4 linked regions of the Homo sapiens genome follow. The protein of the gene in region 1 interacts with the protein of each later gene in a pairwise test. Each region holds a gene or a part of one and is shown on either strand. Other genes may lie near its edges.

Region 1 (5,159 bases):
CGGGTCAACAGACTGATTCATATCTTGACGAAGACACTTATTTCCAAGATGCTCTCTTCAAGATGGTTTCCTCACCTTAAAATGGGGTGATGATAATCTACTTCTTAAGGTTGTGGATATTTAACAGAGTAAGAGGTGGAAAACTAAGTACACTATAACTAGGACATAGGGTACTGGTTTAATAACACATGTGCCAGGAGCTATTCTAAATGCTTTACGTATGTAATTAAGTCAATCTTCACAACAACACTGTTATTTTTTCCTTTTTACAGGTAAGGAAATTGAGGCAGAGAGGTTAGGTAATTTGCCCAAGGTCACAGAGCTAGCAAGTGGCAGAGGCAGGATTCCAACCCCCCAACCCCACATTGGACTGCAGAGCCCATTCTCTTAACCATCACATATTGTTGCTTCAGTGGGTGAGGGGCTCAGGAAGCAGCATCTCCTACGACTACTCCTTTAAGAACCAGAAAAAACAGAACTCAATCTATCTCCCAGTTGGGCTCAGACTGCATAAAATAGTGTGAACACATAAATTATGGTACAATAATTCATGTGTATCTCTGGGTTGAGGGATATAATCTCAATGAAGCTCCTGGCCAAAATCTGCCATTAGAAAGCCATCCTCAGCTTAGAAAGCAGGGAGCTACATGCTGTTCTTTAAATTCCTTATATATCTTTGAACTGATCATTGCTGCAGTATGAGAAACAGTACAGTAAAAGAGTTAAAATCCAAAGCCAGACCATCTGGTTCCAAACCCCGGCTTCTCCACTTACAGACTAAATGGTCCTGAACATAAATCTTCTTTGGGCCTCACTTTCCTCATCTGCAAAAGGAGAGTAAAAGCAGTTTACCTCAAAAAATTATGTGGTTAAACAGTAAATTTAGTTACCAAATTTCTTTAATAATTTTATTAAATAAACTTATGCATGTAGAGGGCTTAAAAAAAGGTCATGGGTACATGGTAAGTGCTCAATAAATGCTAGCTATTATTAGCTATTTTACTCTTGGAAAGACTTCCATGATATTTTGTTAAGTAATGTAAAAAAGTTACAAAACCATATCTAATATGAGCTTATTTAGTCCTCAGGAAAAAAAAACAAATATCAGTAGATATGTACAGGCATAAATTCTGCTCTATAAACACAAAAGTTGGTATAAGGACAGAAAAAATTGCAAGGAAAAACCAACTTAAAAAATAGGGAAAAGGCAAGGGCAGGACTTTCATTCCTTTCTTTATGTACTTTCATGCACAAAAATATAACTTTTATTTTATTGTGTCTTCCAAATTTTCTATAAATGAAAGTGTTTTTCATATTAAGAAAAAAAATTTATGTTTTTAAAAGGCAATTATGGTGATGATAAGCACAGGAAATGGGGATAAACAGCACCATTCTGAACCACCAAAACCAATGGTAGAATGGCATGAGTGATAAAAAATGCATAAAATAAAACAGCAAGCAGTCTTGTTGGGCAAAAACTGGTTAGAAAATTATACAAATGTCCTACAGTTTTTTAAGATAGTCAATTATGTAAGGGAAATAGCACTTTACCAGAGATCAGTAGTTTGTTGTTTTAAAGGGCAATTCCAACAGTATACAAATATTTGAAATGTGTAAATCTTTCCACTAAACAATCATACTTCTAGGCATATAAGAGAGCAAGCATAATATATATTGAGGACATTGTTGAATTGCAGTATTATTTGAAATGGCAAAAAACTAGAGACAATCTTAATATCCATCATGGACAAACTGTTAAAAACCAACACATATGGTACAGCCAGGCTATTCTGGGATTATTAAAGATTAAAGCACATATGCATGTATAGCACAAAAAAAGAAGTTACAGGTTAATTAGAACAGTATGATCACCATTTTTTGTTAACTCAAACTACCTATATATATTTAGGGGAAAGTTCTGGAAAAGTTACAAAATGTCACAAATGACACTTCTTGGGATGGAATAATTTGGGTACAGGGAGGGGTAGAAGAGCAGGGCTTTCACCTCTTCCATAGCATATCTTTATATAGCTTGAATGTTATAGGAGCATGTATTATTCTGTAAAATTTTTAGCAGCAGAGTATTCAAGCACAATTAAATGAGATAATGTGTGAAAGTACTCTTAGCTCAATCCCAAAAAGTAGCAGCCCTGTCCTTGAGTGGAAATCTCGACTTAGACAAATCCCACCAATCAGGTACACTTCTAGCACCTGTTCCACATATGTACGCATACCCATGAGCAAGGGTAATGCAGTCTTCATACCTGAGGGAATGTCTGTGGGAATCTGGCCCATCAGGAAGACAGGGAACAGAAATACAGAGGCCAGACTTTTCCCCAACTATCATCAAGGGCAAAGCCATGGAGTACTGGCAGACCTGGCAAAAGTGGACTCTCCCCCTGGCTTAATGAACAATCCAACCTTGGTAGGAGGAAAGAGGGAAATTGACTTTATTAACACCCTCTTCAAAAACAAATGCTCTTCATCTTTCAACCTTCAATGAATGAAATTACTAAGAAGGTGCATTTCCGCTTCAAGAGAGCAGCTCACAAAGTTAAATACGGTAGGGACTTAATCTATGTACACCATCTGATATTCCATTATATACTGACTTTTTATTGCTAATGTTTTCACCTGTTTTGGACTTGGCTGCCAATTAAACTGTTAGTTTTCCAGGGCGCTGTCACTTCAGGGAAGCTGCACAGGGTACTGAGAGAGCGCTGGACTGAGTAGCATCAGAGGCCATGGTTCTCAGCAACACTTCTGTTATGTACTGAGAAACCTTGAACCGGTCATAATTTCTTTGGGTTTCAATTATGAAGTCAAACTAGATGACCTTTAAAGAATTTCAAGTTCTATTATCTTTTGATTTTTACATTTCTCATAGGACCCAATATGGAACTGAGTACAGCTATTTATATCAAAATTATTTTGTCTTCACTTTTTTTTTTTTTTTTGAGACGGAGTCTTGCTCTGTTGCCCAGGCTGGAGTGCAGTGGGGTGTGATCTCAGCTCACTGCAACCTCTGCTTCCTGGGTTCAAGCAATTCTCCTGCCTTGACCTCCCGAGTAGCTGGGACTACAGGCGCATGCCACCGCACCTGCTAATTTTTGTATTTTTAGTAGAGATGGGGTTTCACCATGTTGGCCAGACTGGTCTCGAATTCCTGACCTCGTGATCCTCCCACCTTGGCCTCCAAAATGCTGGGATTACAGGTGTGAGCCATCACGCACTGCCTTTTCTTCACATTTTTATAACAATGTGCACACATTGTCTTTACAACCCAATGTTTAGCAAATGAGATTCTACCTAATTTTAATAACAATAAAATAATTTATTAAGCATGTAGCAATTACTTGGAACAATTCTAAGCATTTTATGTGTACGAACTTATTCAATCTTACAATGATCCAAATACTTTCCCCCATTACAGATAAGGAAACTGAAGCCTGGAGTTTTCTTGACCTAGGATACAGAGCTGGAACATGACAAAGCCAAAATTCAAACCCTGGTAGTCTAGCACATTTAACATTACACCCTACTATCTTTAGTACAGGAGAGGGGGAAGGATACAATATTCAAGCTGCTTTTTTTTTTTTTAAGTTTTGGGATACATGTGCAGAACGTGCAGGTTTGCTGCACCTATCAATCCGTCATCTAGGTTTTAAGCCCCGCATGCATTAGTTATTTGTCCTAATGCTCTTCCTCCCCTCAAGCTGCTTTTTCAAACCGAACAAGTATTCTCTTCTTTACCACCTCACCTGAAACTAAATTATAATCAAATAATTATGCCAATTGAATAACTGGAATGGGAACTACACAAAAGCAGACAAAATATTAAATTCTGGATGTAGCAATTCAAAAAAATTTTGAAAAACCTAGCAAATATATTGCCAGGCTTTCCCTGCACTGCCATCCCTTCTCTCTGTGCTTCTAGAACACTTAACATGAACTGTATTACAGCACAGATCTAACAGGAATAAAATTTCTCTCCCACCACAACTGAGTTCTCATTTGGCAGGCTTGTCAGCATATTCTTTGTACCCCACTTCGGTAACAGGCATCATCACTCACTCCAAGGTTGGAGCCCAGTCAAGATTGCTGAATGAATGTCCAAGTTCAAGGATGTATTAGTGTAAGGTTTGCTGCTGTTTTAGTATGATAGACAAGTCAACACTTTGGCCATGCTGCAATTTGGAAGGGCTTTCAACGTAATCTTGATTGGTAACAGCTCAGAGAAGGAGAAAGGTGATTCAGGGTATGAATCAAGAGCATGGCAATTTACAAACAGTGTATCAGTTTCAAATTCTTCCAATGTACACACAGGAATAGCAGCAATCATATTCTTAGAAGATTATTAAGAAACAAGAAAAAAAAGAGGCACTTTTAGAAGTCTATCAACTTTTAAGGTTAAAAGTCAGCTAAGAAGTCCAAATCAAATTTTAAAATTACTATTTATTGGTATTTCACTCCTCAAATAATGAAATGGTAATAGCATCTACTAAAGGCATTGGAAATAACAAAGAAACCAAACATAATTAATAAATCTACTCATCGTTTTTTCAATGATTTAGCCCAAATTCAATCATTGGTTATAGTTGTCAACGTGTGGTCCTGGGACCAGCAGCATCAACATCACCTGACTCAATAAAAATGCAAATTATCAAGTGCCACTACAGACCTACAGATTCAGAAACTTTAGTGGTGGGAGAACCTCCACGTAATTCTGACAAAGTTTGAGAATCACTGCTGTGTTCTATAGAATGTGGTTCAGTATAAATTAGTATTCTATTTATATGCACTTTCAATTAGAGAACACCAAAAAGGAATTCTTATCTAAGGGTCCTACAAAATGGATTCCAAGAATGATGTAAAAGTGTTCCAAAGCACTAAATGGAGGCTGAAAATAACAGTCCTAGGGAATGCCTGGCTAAGCAGCTTATTAAACCTTAGAGGATGGGGGGAAACTCTGAAAAATAAACAGTTCATCAGCTGAATATTCATTTATCCTATTCACATACTCTACAGCCCAGCAAGTCCACTCCTAGTGAAACCCAATCGAAACTCTTGCCTACGTATGCCAGGAGGTGTGCACCTATACAGCAGCATTCTTCACAATAGCGAGTAGCACAAGAGTATCACCCTGGAAACAACCCATA
Region 2 (5,159 bases), on another chromosome or scaffold:
AACTCTTCCTATTATAATGATATCATAATTAACTAGACTTTTAGAATAACATGTCTGCATCAACTCACTTGCCTATTGCTGAAGTTGTTGGAAAGAGAAGTAAAGCAAATATCACTGGAAATTTGTTTGATGATAGAGAGATTACAATGCCTCCAAAGGATATCATTCTGTTCTGTGCTGCAGTGTTCACTGTGCAGCCCTGTACATGTAAAAGTATAGGATACTGGGATAATAATGGATACAGCTAGTATTTACAAGTGCTTCTAAGAATTTTAAATGCAGCATTTAATCTTCATATTAACTCTACAAGGTGAAAATTATTACCACCTCTCTTCTACAGATGAAGAGTCTGGGTCCAGAGAGGTCCAGTCACATATGCAAGGTCACAGCCAGCCAGTGAGAGGTGAAGCTGCTCAGGCGTGCACTCACGGGGCACCTGACTCCTGAGGCGACAGCCTTCACCTCTGTGCTCGGCATTTGTCCTAGCGATGATTCCTTTTTGCTTATTCCCAGAGAGCATCTTTGATTTCTTTCCACGCCTTCTAAAAGTAGTTCGCTTTCTCCTACAAATGGAGTGTAGCTAAGATCTTACACTTACATAAGCATTCTACTATCAGGGTCTGGTCATTAAGCATTCTACTATCAGGGTCTGGTCATTAAGGTTCCTCTGTAGCAGTCTCCTCTTAATGACATACTGGCCCATTCTTGTTCCCCTGTTGAAAGGTGAAATGAGGGTTGTGGCTCTCTTGTGAGATAAAAGTCAGTTGCTGCTTTCTACTGCATCTTTAAAATGAAATCTCCCACGCTTTACATGTATTTTACATACATTCCTATAATAAATTACATATACAATCATATGACACAAATGATATATAATGTACACATAGTGAATGTCACTCTTTTTGGTGTACAAGTCTATGAGATTTAATGTGTTTCTGTGGCTCCTACCCTTTGCTGAAGCTGTGACATGAATGAACACAGAGGGTGGGAAGAGCACCGGAACTGACCTCAAAGCCCTTCCCTGAGTCCCAGTAGTGCATCTACTAAATGGAAGCTCCATGAAGGCAGGGACCTTTTCTTGTCCCTAGAATAGTACCTGACACATGATAGCCTCTCAATAAATATTAACTGTATATTTTTCTATATAATTTTATTCTAGAGAGAGAAAGAATATAGCTAAATTCTAGTTATTTAACCTCCAGGAACCTCAGTTTCCACATCTGTAAAATGGGAATAAAGTTATTGTATACCATGTAAAGTTTATGTAAAAATTAACATGTATAAAAGCACACATAAAATGTAAAGTGTGGCCAGGCACTTTACAGGCCATAGCTCATGCCTGTAATCCCAGCACTTTGGGAGGCTGAGGAGGGTGGATCACTTGAGGTCAGGAGCTCGAGACCAGCCTGGCCAACATGGCAAAACCCCGTCTCTAGTAAAAATACAAAAAATTAGCCAGGAGTGGTGGCACATGCCTGTAATCCCAACTACTGGGGAGGCTGAGGCACGAGAATTACTTGAACCTGAGAGGCAGAGGTTGCAGTAAGCCGAGATCACACCACTGCTCTCCAACCTGGTCGACAGAGAGAGACTCTGTCTCAAAAAAAAAAAAAAAAAAAAAAAAAAAAAAAGAAGCTAAGTGCCGTACAAATGTATGGGAATATAGACAAAACTGAAGAAGGATAGAATTGATGTCTTTTTTTTTTTTTTTTAAGACAGAGTTTCGCTCCTGTTACCCAGGCTGGAGTGCAATGGCATGATCTCGGCTCACCGCAAACTTCGCCTCCCAAGTTCAAATGATTCTCCTGCCTCAGCCTCCCGAGTAGCTGGGATTACAGGTGCCTGCCACCACGCCCAGCTAACTTTTGTATTTGTAGTAGAGACGAGGTTTCACCATGTTGGCCAAGCTGGTCTCGAACTCCTGACCTCATGATCCGATTACAGGCATGAGCCACCGCGCCTGGCCACAATTGATGTCTTATAGTGAAAACAGTCATATGCTTCAGGGATGTGTCACTTTGAATCCATTATTTTAATGTCAGCTTCAAAATTCTGGTCTTATCTGGCCACCTGCACTCTTTCTATAAAGAATCTTGTTTTATTTTATTTTTTTATAGATTTTATTTATTTATTTATTTATTTATTTATTTATTTATTTTGAGATGGAGTCTCACTCTGTCGCCCAGGCTGGAGTGCAGTGGCACAATCTCTGCACACTGCAAGCTCCGCCTCCCGGGTTCACGCCACTCTCCTGCCTCAGCCTCCCGAGTAGCTGGGACTACAGGCGCCCGCCACCATGCCCGGCTAATTTTTTGTATTTTTAGTAGAGACGGGGGTTCACTGTGTTAGCCAAGATGGTCTCGATCTCCTGACCTCGTGATCCGCCCGCCTCGGCCTCCCAAAGTGCTGGGATTACAGGCGTGAGCCACTGTGCCCAGCCTGTTTTATTTTTTAATATAGCTCTGTATGTGAAATTCTGGGTTTGATAGAGTAGTGATACATTTTTCTGAAACACATAAAATACACAACCATCAAACAGTTTTCATGCTTTACGTGATTCTTCTACTACCTAAATCACTTCCTATTTTTCCCACTGACAGCTGTTGCTTTCCTCTCTCCCTAAATTAATTTTGGAGTAGGATACACTTTCCTTTACTCTGCTCACCCGAAACCCATTTAGGTTTTTAAACACTGTGTTTTTATTTTTTAAAGTCTATAAACCACAGAGAATTAAATGAGGATTTATAAAAATGTAACAAGTAATAAGAAACCTAGCTCAGAAGCTCTCAAATTTTAATGCTGTGTACACAAAACTATGTATGTAATACTTTATGAGTGACAAAGGATTTATTTTCAAGGATGAAACTGAATATTTGAATTTTGTCTCATACACTAACATTAGACCTGAATTTTCATAACATCAATGGTGTTGTGGGACTTAGGCTATCATTAATATTTCACTAGATCCCACCACAAACAAACATTCCCCTTCTGTTTCAGAGCTCCTGCTGATAGCTGGATGTTCTAGAAAATTCCTGTTCCCAGTCTGAATGGTGCCTCTGGTAGTTCTTGACTAATTTGCAGAGCAGAGATGATTGGCATTCCTGAGCCCCAATGAATGGGGCCTTTTTTAGGTCCTAGTTACCAATACTTCCCATCTCCCAAAATTCTCTGATTGCTCATTTGTTTATTCATTTATTCATCTATTTGTTCACCAAATATTTATTTAGCACATACCAAGTGCCAGGCATTGTGTGGTCGTTTCATTGTATGGTGATGAGCCAGGCAGATATGGTTTCTGGTTTTAACAAAGAGATGTTTAACAAGAGTATAACAGGTAGACCTGGTATCTGTGGAGTCAGGGAAAGTTTCCATGAGGAAGGGACATTTAAACTGAGATAAGAAGTAGCTGGATGAAGTGGGGAGGAGGGCATGTAGGTGTGAGGACCATGGGTGCTGGAATTTTGAAAATGGTAATCAACCACAGCATGTGCAAAAGTCCTGCAGTGGGAAGGAACACGATGGACTCTAGGTGAATGAGAGATTCAGAGAGTAACTGGAGATGGTTCTGGAGACATGGGCAGGGCCAAATCACACAGGGTTTTGTAAGCCATGTCAGATAAGAATTTTAAACTCTATCTTAAGATCAATGGGAAGCCACTGATAAGGCAGGAGAGTGGCATAAGCAGGTTCATATTTTTAAATGTCACTCTGTCTACACTGTGGAGAATGGGTGGGAGGGGAAAGTAAAAGGATGAAGGAAGACCAATTATAAGGACACAACAAAAGCACAAGTGAGAGATGATGTTGAGACCAGGATAGTGGGGTCACGATCAGGATGGAGAGAAGCAGCCAGATATGAGATCTTTAGGAAACAGAATGATCAGAATTATCAGGTGATAGGTTAGATGTGAGTGCATGGAGAGGGTAAGGAGGCCAGGTAGATTCCTGGGTTTCTCTTGAACAATTAGGCAGACAATGGGGTAAAGTTAGTACCGTTTGCTGAATTAGGGTAGCCAGGAGCAGAAGCAGGTTTGTGAGAGAAAGAGAAGGTAGGGCTGCATTATTGCCAAGTAGATATCAAAGTGGAGGTGTCCAGTTTTACAAAAACGTCCTTTGTAGCTTAGGAAAGAGATCAGGGCTGCAGACGTTAAGATGGTTATCTGCCAGTGCTATCTAAATAGGCAACAACAATCATTATAATAGTATTCAAGGGGAAAAACTGGTAGCCTCTCACTGAGGCCCAAGAAATCACAAGGCATGAATTCTCACATTAAAATGCTTGTTTCCAACTCACCAGGCTGTATACATTCAATATGTGTAGCTTTTGTATGTCAATCTTAGTTCAATAAAGTAGTTTTTAACAATATGGTGCACAAGGTAAAAAGAAATACTTGATTTTCTTATATAATAATACACAACTTCAGATATCAAGGGCTTACATAAACTATGCCAAAAGATTTAATAAACAATCATCATTAAGATGACATCCAAAAAGTTATGGTCGTTTCAACCAGTCTAGTGGGAAACTCTGGGCTTTGACCTAGGATTTTTGTTTCAGCTCCAAAGTGGTTGGGAAGATTTTGTTTTCTTAAAAGCCAGCTTTCCTTGAACAAAGCTCCTGTTGCTTTCTGGAGTGCCTTATAAAGAATGCTGGGAACTGCTTAAATAAAAAACTAAGGTAAATACATATGCACATAAATAAAATCCCAAACTAAAAATAAATTGTCTCTTTTAATAAAAAATATAAAGTAAAATAGAATGCCAGACTCACTGAACTTCCCAGTACTATGGGTCTGGAGAACAGTTTAGACATCTCTTTCTAAAAGGCTGCAACAGGTGATTCTGCTATGAAGCCAGAGTTGATGTGAATGTCAGAAGTATATATTATGTGTCTAGCACATAGTAGATGTTCAACAAAAAGCACTACCCAATGTCACCTGTGCAATATTCTTGCCCAAAATGTTTAACCTCAATTTAATAACAAGGAAATAATAAGGTAAGCTGAAATTTAGGATCATTCTGCAAAATAATTGACCTGGATTCTTTAAAATGTCAGCATTACATTAGGAAAAATGAAAAAGACAATGAAGATGGAAGAGGAAACAGAAGAGGAGAAAGAGGAGGAACGGTGATGGGGTGTAGAGATTGTGGGAGAA
Region 3 (5,114 bases), on another chromosome or scaffold:
AATTTAAAAGTGAAACCAAAATCTGGGCCTCCCCACCCAGTTCACTGGTATTTCCATCCCATCATGTTGTAAATTGAATTCCTGTGTTGAGTAGTGTGATGGTTAATATTGAGGGTCAACTTGATTGGATTGAAGGATGCAAAGTATTGTTCCTGGGTGTGTCTGTGAAGCTGTTGCCAAAGGAAATTAACATTTGAGTCAGTGGACTGGGAGAGGCTGACCCACCCCCAGTCTGGGTGGGCACCATCTAATCAGCTGCCAGCGTGGCTAAAATAGAGCAGGCAGAAGAATGTGGAAGGACTAGACTGGCTGAGTCTTCTGGTCTTCATCATTCTCCTGTGCTGGATGCTTCCTGCCCTTGAACATCAGACTCCAAGTTCTTCAGCTTTGGACTCTTGGACTTACACCAGTGATTTGCCAGGGGTTCTAGGGCCTTCGGCCATAGACCGAAGGCTGCTCTATCAGCTTCCTTACTTTTGAGGTTTTGGGACTTGGACTGGCTTCCTTGCTCTTCAGCTTGCAGACAGCCTATTGTGGGACTTCACCTTGTGATTGTGTGAGTCAATACTCCTTAATAAACTCCCTTTCATATATACATCTATCTATCCTATTAGTTCTGTTCCTCTAGGGAACCCTGAATAATACAAGTAGGATAGAATAGATGACATTTTAAGGGTATATTATTTTACAAGTCAATTTTGTAAGGTGCCTGATTCACATTTCTCAATATTCTTTATAATTTTCAGGTACTTTTATTCTTACCCATGTATTATATTAAGAAAATTTAGATAACATCAAAAAAAAAGTGGGAAGGAAATTTCAAAACTTCTTCCTGCTGTGCTTATTCAAAGTTCAGTAGTTCAACTTCCTTTTTTGTTTTAACTCTTATTATAGAAAGCTATACCAAAGTTAAGCTCTTCATCCCGTTTTCTAAAATCAAATTGTAGTCTAGGGGAGAGAGAGACAAAATGGGAATGAGAATATGTTGATGTTTTAAGGACAAAAAATATCAATTGAGGAGTCTTGTCTTTGTCCATTTACAACTCTCCTCCGTTTCTATCCCTTTTGCGGAGAAGAGCACCCAAAATCAGCCTAGACTCACTTTTGCAAGATTTGACTTTAGGACTGAACTCATCTCTGTCTCCAGTTAGGTGTAGTAAGTCTCCAAGTCTCCAAAAGATCCAGCTAAATCAACATTTACACTCTTATGTAACATCTGTTCTGAGAGTGAAGTTCGTGGAATTGAATAACCTTATAAATGAACTGAAACACAGGCCTCGGGATTTTTAAACATGTGTGTACAGACATATCCAAAAAATTCAGCATATGGGCAACGAGAATTTGTCCATTGCAATTATAATTGCAATTCATAATATGCCCAGTCTCCATCTGCAGGTTGCAAATGCTTATTACACCATTATGTGGCCAGTGTGGGCCTCAACTGTGGAAAAAGTTTTTGGAGGAATATATTTGGAATTCAGTATCTTTTTAAAAGTTGGTAGAATGAATTTATCAGAGTGGTGAAACCATAAACACTTTTTGGGTTTCATGGCCCCAGAATGTATATGTACCATATACACAATGTCTTATTCAAATGTAGGTATTCAAAAAATGTTTATTGAATGAACATATATAAATGAATGAATGAGTGCGTTTTGTAAAGGAATCTGGGAGTCAAAATCTGGCCAGAAGAACCCAAGTCCTGCTCCAGTGACCAGATCAACCAGTCCAATTTTCCCACTGTGCTCAATGTTCCTCTTTGGTTTGTAACAAGAACCACTGTCCTCTTTGACATAGTGCAGAAACAAATGAGAAGCAGATGAGCAGGAAAGCCCTAGAGCCTAGCATTCATGTTCAACCTGATTTTCTGGCTTCCAGTATTTTGGCTCATTAAACAGGAAAACAAAATTAACTGTTTATAATTTTCAAAACACTTTGCATTTTCACTCATTCCAGATACAAACAACTTTAAAGACAAAATCACAAGGAGGGTATGTGAACAAGGCCTAGTTACCAAAAGAGGTCACATGAAAATTAAAAAGCATTCAAGAGTAAATAGCAGTCCATATTGTCCAGGGGGATGAGCTATGCAACCTAAGTAAAAATTAAAACCAAATTACAGACACTAATTAGTGTTGTATAACATACCGATTCATTTGCATACAATGCAATTATCCTGATAGGTGCTGGATTCAACACATCCAGCTGGGTTAGTGCATCTCCACGGAACAAAAGCATTCGGTTTTTTTCCCTGTGTGTTGGCTGTGTTCTCTTATGACTGTGACGGCAAATAAACAATCATTCCCAGCACCTTTAGACTTTGAACATTTGAAATAAAATCAATACAGATTGTGCATGGGGAGCATTCAGCCCCCCTCAGATGAACAACTAACAGGCTGATTCTGGGTCAGTACTCCATTTCTAGAACATTTTATCTGATCTTGTGTTTTAGAAAACCACATTTATTTTATGCTATATAAAGAATTCTTCTTCATCTTCTTCTTTTTCTTCACCCTGAACTTGCAGATGAAGGAGACATTCTGAAATTGTCTTCCTGGTACCAAGGTCCCTTTGGCCAGCAAGTGGCAAAGGAGAGACTCTTTCCTTAAGGACACTGTTGTTTTTGGAGGTAGCCACCCCCAAGGAAGAGGCTGGCAAGCAGAATGGTGGCTGGCTGGTCTGTAAATCCCTTGGAAATCCGCCAAAATAAGTCTGCCTGGGTTCAGAATTTATGATGGTCAAGCCGGTGTCAACATTCGTCTCGGCCTCAAGCTTCTGAAAGCTGTTTTCCCGGTTGAGGACCTTCATTCTGGCCCCGGATTCAAGGTGATGAGAAGACAGGTGCAGGTGGGCACCCATAGCTGGGCTGCTGACCTGGAATGACCGGCCAGGGCTTTTCCACGAAGTGCCAGCACACCTGTCTGATGTGGGGCTCCCACTGGGCTCAGGAAGCTCCAGAGAATGCCCCTGGGACCTCTTGCCCTGGTTCCTCTGGCTCCTGGGTTCTGAGGTCCTCTTTGCAGAGACAGAAGTCAGCCTGGAGCCCAGGGGAAGCATGCCAGCTCCCAAGATGCCATTCTTAACACCAAGTTCTGGATTCAGCTGAACCTACAGGAAAGGAAAGGAGGAACATATGAAACATAATTTCCATTAACTAAGTGCCAAGAGCTGACTATGCCTTATTCACCCTCTGCCATGCCATGCCCATAGCAGACTTTCAGTAAATTTGGTTGAATTGAATAGAAGTGATAAGTACAATATAATTATGAGATATCTAATCAGACCCAGCCCCAAATACCTCTCTTTGGGACTCCCTAAATTAAGTTTTTGACAAGGGTAAGACTTTGGGAATCAAATGGCCAATTGACAACACCACACTTCTGGTAGAGCAAGTTGTTCAAACAATGCAGACATTCACAGATGTCATTCAGTGACCTCACTGGATGTTGTAAATGATATATTTATTAGCAACCATGTAAAAAAAGAAATTTAGAAAGCCACCAAACCATGTGGTTAAAGTTAAGATAAGGATTGAAGTAAGAATTCAATCTTCCAAAGCTGGTGATCCTTCTTTTAGATCATGCTAATAAAAATACATATCTTGGGCCATTCTAAGACATGTGACCACTCCAGACGGCTAATAATTTGGCAGCAATATTCTTTAAATTCTTGGGGCACCATTTATTTAGATTAGAGGCCTGGTATTGCATGAGAAAACAAAAAGGGGGCATGGCTTATATGGAAGTTTAGGTGTTTTCATCCTTAGCAATTCCACTCTGGTTACAAACTTACAGACACCACTCAGCAAAACCCTCACCCTGCAGTTGACTGCACTCTCCCTCCACAGGATGGAGTTCACTGACCCCCCTTTAAGACTTCCACCCTTGGGAGCCTTGCATCCTATTCCATGCACAACACTCTTCCCAAGAAGATTTCTGGAAAAAGGCAATTTTTTCCATTTTGATAACAGCCCTTGGAAATTTGTATCCAGGATCCATCCCTACCTGGCCCAGCCCTTAATCAAATATCAAGAAGAATGATACGGAAGAACTTGCAATAAATACTACTAACTGAAAGAAGCCTATCTGGGCTCATGCCTGTAATCCTAGCCCTTTGGGAAGCTGAGGTGGGAGGACTACTTGAGGCCAGGAGTTCAAGACCAGCTTGGGCAACTAGCAAGACCCCATCTTTACAAAAAATAAAAACATCAGCCAGACGTGTGGTCCATACATATAGTCCCAGCTATTCAGAAGGCAGAAGAGGGAGGATCCCTCGAGCCCAGGAGTTCGAGGTTAAATTGAGTTATGACTGCACCACTGCACTCCAGCCTGGGTGACAGAGAGAGACTATATGATGCCAACTATATGACACTTTGGAAAAACCAAAACTATGAAGACAGTAAAAAAATCAGTGGTTGCCAGGGGTTGGGGGGAGGGAGGGATGACTAAGTGGAGCAGGAGGACTTTAGGGCAGTGAAAACTACTCTGCATGATACTGTAATGGTGGATGCACATCCTTATACATTTGTCCAAACCCACAGAATGTACGACACCAAGAATGAACCCTAATGTACCCTATGGGCTTTGGGTGATGGTGATGTGTCGTTGTAGGTTGATCAGTTGTAACACATGTACCACTCTGATAAAGGATGTTGACAGGAAAGGAGGCTCTTTTCGGGGGGAAGGTTGTATATGGGAACTCTCTGTTCTTTCTGCTTAATTCTGCTGTGAACCTACCACTGCTGTAAAAAATAAGGTCTATTTCAAGGGAGAAAAAATAATGATACATATTTATCTTACAAGGCAAGAAGGCAGAAATGAGGACAGTGAGAAAACAGGTCTAGAAATCAGTAAATTCTCTCTCTCATACACACACACACACACTCACACAGAGCATATTTGTTTGTATAGATGACGCAGAGTACATCTCAATTTTCTGATAGAAATGGTGAGGTGCATATTACCAAGCTGCAAAAACAAACACACAAAAAAACAAGGACTTCCACTGATTCTTTTAGAATAGAAGTTGGCAAATATTTTCGGCAAGGAGCCAGACAGTAAATATCTGAGGGTTTGCCGGCCATATGGTCTTTATCCCAACTATCCAACTCTGCT
Region 4 (5,159 bases), on another chromosome or scaffold:
TGTACAGGAAAAGGCTTTGCTTAAACAAGTGCCCGGTTCAGGAAAAGATATGTTTCCTGAAGAAGATACTTTTTTTTTTTTTTTTTTTTTTTTTGAGATAGAATCTCATTCTCTTGCCCATGCTGGAGTGCAGTGGTGCGATCTCGGCTCATTGCAACCTCCACCTTCTGGGTTCAAGCGATTTTCCTACTTCAGCTTCCCAAGTAGCTGGGACTACAGGCACCCACCACCATACCTGGCTAATTTTTTATATTTTTAGTAGAGATGGGGTTTCACCGTGTTAGCCAGGATGGCCTTGATCTTCTGACCTCATGATCTGCCTGCCTTGGCCTCCCAAAGTGCTGGGATTATAGGCGTGAGCCACCACACCTGACCGCAAGATACTTCTTACACAGAGGCTGCCATCGCAGAAGCTTGTGTTGTACTATCGACCCCCATTTTGGGTCATTTTTTATCAGAAAGATGAGTTGTTCTGCAGCTACAGATTGCGTGTATAATCCTGGCCAGCATCTCTAAAGCTTGTCAGCTGCTTCACGAGTGAGTACCCCTGTTCACAGAGGAGATCAGGTGAGTGTGCAGGTCTGAACTTACTACTGCAATGGGAAGGTCAGCTCAGAGAGCATTAACTTTGGATACAGATGATAACACAACAAAACTATTACCTCATATCTACGTCGCTATGAGCAGACTGGGAATAGGGTAATAGTGCTTGGAGTTGGCAGAGGTGCAACAGTAGATGGCCATGGGTGCTGCTTTGGAAGGGCCTAAGGATACAGTTGTTGAATGATTGTAAGAACAAGAGAAAGGTGGAGTCTCAATAAGGCAGCCGTACAATATGTTTATCAAGCCTTCAATAGGTTTAGTATATACTCCTTTGGTGCATGCTTACAAGTTTACTGAACTATAACCAAACATCCCACTGGGAAATGTTTTGAATTGATGTGAGAATTTGACATTAAGTAGCAACTTGGGACATCAGAGAGGCCTCAAAAAGAAAAAAAAGTTAACAAGAAATTAGTGATTAGGTTGAAAGAGACATTCTACTCCTACTACCTAGAGAGCATAGATAGAGAAAAATAAGCACCTTCTATACCCATACCAGGACTTAGGCAGCTGCTGCTTGCAATAGCTGCAGGCCTGGTCCTCATGCACCTTACAGAGAACGAGTCAGTACAAGCTCAGACCCAGTTGATAAAAATGAACCAAAATGAATTAAAAAGTCCCTGTGGTTGGAGCTATATGGGTAATAGCTTTACCAAATATTTGTGTAGCCAATTGTAGTTTATGGTGCAAAACACTAAAATCCCTCCACAGAATCTCTGGGGTAAACATTATTTTCATTTTTTTCAGATGAAAATAGTAACTTTTCAGATGAAAGCTTATAGCTAACACTTGATTTTTGAGATTTATATATATTATATATCAGTTAAAATAGCTTTAAGATTCTAAAAATGTAAGCTTATTTTTTCCTCTTTAAGAGGAAGTGATATTTTTATTACATGCATGGGATTGAAGGGGTGTGTTATTAAAAGTAGAGCATTGGACTAGAGATTGGGGAATTACTGCTTCTGGTCTTGATGCTGCCAGTAACTGAATATTACTCAGGGTCTCTTTTTTTTCTCAAGTATAAATTGAGTCAGTCTTACGGGGATTTTTCTAGGATGTGTCTCAGTTTCTCAGTTTCTCAGATGGGTTTCAGCAACATTCCCAGTGGCTGTCAGTTGTTAGAAGGATGCAGCTGGCTCTGGCATTTTCAAATAGAAAGTCTTCTTGTCTTCCAAGAAGGGAGTCGTAGTTTTTTCCTTCAAAGAGCACACACAGCATTTGATCTGTAGCCTTTCCCTTTTCCATCTTATTTCCATTCTGGTTTGGGCCCTGAGATACAAGTAACAGTTGAGGTATAGACTATTTAGTTCACTGATGTATCACAGGGCCTTGATTAGTGCCTGGCCTGGGAGACATTTGTTGAATGAATGACTTAATATATAGGAGCTTGCAATCTAGTGGAAAGGCAGAAAGGTGAATGTGGAAAGGCTAATTCCTGTTCTTTCATTGAGACTGTATTGGAAGTTTGAGAAAGGAACAGCAGGCACAAGGAATGGTAGCTTTAGGTAGGCAGGGTTGGAATGGAGTGGACAACTGTTTTGGTCAGTGAAGGCTTGGATGTTTAGACTGCGTCTTGAAAGGTGACTCCCTCCCAATGGTACAGGAGAGAGGGCAATGTAGGCGTGTGTAAAGGCAAGGAGATGGACGTAGAACAGGATATGTAATATTAAGGAAAAAAACTGTAGAATTTGAGGTTGGAGAGTTAGGCCATCACCAAATGATGAAGTCTTGAATGCTGTACAAAGAATTTGAATTTTTCTGTAAACAGACAGTAGCTATTGAAGAATTTGAAGTAGGGAGTTACCATTATCACATTTGCATTTTAAGCGGATGGTACAGGAATTAGGGCAGGAGAAATGGGATGAGAGAAGAGAGGAATTCATTAAATATTTAGGGATTGATGAAGTCAGAGCTAAGAATGAGAGAGAAAGAAGAGTTAAGAACAAGCCCTATGTTTGAATTTAGGAAGCTGGGTGTTGGTGGTGTCATTAATGAGGTAAGGAAGGCAGGAGAAAGAGGAGATATGCGGCAAACGTGAGATCAATTTTGGACACTTTGGGTGTGAGGTGCTTCTGGTTTGCCAGAAGGAAGGTGTTCATTAGGCACTTCAGTGTGGAGACCGGGCTTCTGAGAGATAGGTCTTAAGCTCGAGTGAATGCATTTATTAATGGAATTTATTAGTTTATCAACAACAGTTAGAAATCAAGAGATTGGATGAGAGTGCCAGTACAAGGGCACATAGAATGAGAAGGGCCCTTCAGCATTGAAGTGCAGGCAGGAGAGGGGAAGCTGCAAAAGAGATAAAATGTGGCCAGAGTCCTAGGAGAACCAGGACAGCAGGATGTCAGAAAAGCCAAGGGAGGGCTTTCCAGAAGACGGGAGTGGCCAGAGGTGTTAGATGCTAAAGGGAAGCCATATAAATAAGGCATTTTATAAATATAAAATATTTATTTACATAAATATCAAAAGTTATTTATTTGGTCATTGGTGACTTCTACCAGAGAATGTTCACTGTTGCACTGAGGGTAAAAGCCAGAGAGTGGTGAGTTCAGGAAGTGGAAATGGGAAGGAGACCCTTGATACAGGAGGAGGATCACTCAGTTACTTGAAATGGAAATCCTGGGGTCTTCCTTGATGACTTCTGCTTTACTCCCACATCTACTCAGATACTGGGTAGTGATGCTGAGGGATGTTTGAGTGGGATCTTTTTTTTTTTTTTTTGAGACGGAGTCTCACTCTGTTGCCCAGGCTGTGGCGCGATCTCACTGCAAGCTCTGCCTCCCGGGTTCACGCCATTCTCCTGCCTCAGCCTCCTGAGTAGCTGGGACTACAGGCGCCCGCCACCACGCCCAGCTAATTTTTTGTATTTTTAGTAGAGATGGGGTTTCACCATGTTAGCCAGGATGGTCTCGATCTCCTGACCTCGTGATCCGCCCACCTCGGCCTCCTAAAGTGCAGGGATTACAGATGCGAGCCACCATGCCTGGCCTTGAGTGGGATCTTGAGACTCAGACTTTTTGGGTTTGAATCCTTCCTCTGCTACTGATAAAGTATCTGATCCAGGGCCAGTTATTTAATCCGGCTATGCTTCAGTTTTTTCACCTATAAAATAGAGATACAAAAGTATCTATCTCATAGGCCTGTGAAGGAGTAAATAAGTGAAGTGCCTAGCTTAGTGTAGCGCCTGGCACATAATAAGCACTCAGTGAATGTTAGTATTTTAAATCCTAAATACCTTTTAAGTGTGTTCTCCCCTGGATTACCATAATAGCTTTTTTTTTTTAAAGTTTATTAAAGTAAATTGTTGTAGAGTAATTTACATGCCATGAAATTCATCCATTTTAAGTTTACATTCCAACACTTTTTTTTTTTTTTTCTAGATAGGGTCTTGCTCTGTTGCCCAAGCTGGAGCACAGTGGCATGATCATGGCTCATTGCAGCCTTGACCTCCTGGGCTCAAGTGATCCTCCCTCCTCAGCCTCCCGAGTAGCAATTCAACACTTGATGAATTTACTGAGTTGTGCAAACATCACTACAATGCAATTTTAGAATATTTTTATCACCCCAATAAGATCTCTTGTGCCTGTTTACAGTTAATCCCTATTCCCACCCCAGCTCTAGGCAACTACTTAATCTACTCTATAGGGATGCTTTTTCTGGGTGTTTCATATAAATAGAATCATTCAATATGTGGCCCTTGTGTTTGCTTCTTTCACTTAGCTTAATGATTTTTAGGTCTATCTGTACGGTAGCACATGTCATAACTTCACTGCTCTTTATTGCTGAGTTGTATAGTGTTGTATGGATATGTAAGATTTTGTTTATCCATTCACCGTAGATAGACATGTGTTTGTTTCCACCCTTGCTCTTATGAATAATGCTGCTATGAACATTCCTGTGCAAGTCTTTGTGTGGACATATGCTTAATAGCTTCTTAATTGGTCCTTTAGCCTCCTTCAGGGATCCTGCTTCTGTTCTTGTCCCCCTCCAATCTGTTCTCTACATTGTAGCCAGAGTGATTTTCCTAAAGTGTAAATCTGATCGTGCCATTCCCCTGCTTAAAATCCTTCAGTAGTGCTCAGGTACCCTCAGGGTCAAGTTCAAACTGTTTCAATTGAAGAGTTCACTAAGAATCTTCAAAATTTGGAATCTCTACCTTCCCTCCCCACCTTCTCTTTCACTATGCCCTCTCTCTATTTTCTTGCTTCAGCCATTTATTCATGTTGTTTCATTCATTCATTTAACATTCATTCATTGAATTAACTAGGCTTAGTGAGGCTCTGGGAGTATAGCGATAGGACAGCCAAATCCTTGCTTTCAGGGAGCTTTCTTTCTAGTGAAAGGCAGATGGTAAACAAGCAAGTCTCAGGTAGTGGTTAAGTGCTGTAAAGAAAATAAAAAAGGATGACGCGATAGTAACTGTGGGAATGATGACTCTCAAATCCGCAAGGCTGTGTGTTCCTCAGAGCCTCTGCTCTATTGCCAGCTGCCTACTTGATATCTCCACTTGGATGTCTAACGGTGGCAAATTCTGGTTTTCATCTGTACTTTAA

What was found. The genes of interacting proteins can lie anywhere in the genome.
Region 2: the proteins of SSX2IP (region 1) and CCDC198 interact in binary tests that used the Homo sapiens proteins (3 or more experiments, as listed by UniProt).
Region 3: the proteins of SSX2IP (region 1) and FAM124B interact in binary tests that used the Homo sapiens proteins (3 or more experiments, as listed by UniProt).
Region 4: the proteins of SSX2IP (region 1) and CHCHD3 interact in binary tests that used the Homo sapiens proteins (3 or more experiments, as listed by UniProt).

Annotation. Positions count from the first base shown.
Region 1 is NC_000001.11:84,679,564-84,684,722, forward strand, and holds part of SSX2IP (afadin- and alpha-actinin-binding protein), read right to left. Parts: intron 2,905-5,159; exon of another isoform or gene 2,635-2,904; intron 2,422-2,634; exon of another isoform or gene 2,265-2,421; intron 825-2,264; exon of another isoform or gene 775-824; intron 1-774. UniProt on the Homo sapiens protein: Belongs to an adhesion system, which plays a role in the organization of homotypic, interneuronal and heterotypic cell-cell adherens junctions (AJs).
Region 2 is NC_000014.9:57,472,261-57,477,419, reverse strand, and holds part of CCDC198 (factor associated with metabolism and energy), read left to right. Parts: intron 1-1,715; coding exon of another isoform or gene 1,716-1,838; intron 1,839-5,159. UniProt on the Homo sapiens protein: May be involved in tuning the metabolism, energy expenditure, and excretion processes.
Region 3 is NC_000002.12:224,377,101-224,382,214, forward strand, and holds the end of FAM124B (protein FAM124B), read right to left. Parts: intron 3,109-5,114; coding exon 2,473-3,108; 3' UTR 1,598-2,472; downstream 1-1,597.
Region 4 is NC_000007.14:133,070,994-133,076,152, reverse strand, and holds part of CHCHD3 (MICOS complex subunit MIC19), read left to right. Parts: intron 1-5,159. UniProt on the Homo sapiens protein: Component of the MICOS complex, a large protein complex of the mitochondrial inner membrane that plays crucial roles in the maintenance of crista junctions, inner membrane architecture, and formation of contact sites to the outer membrane.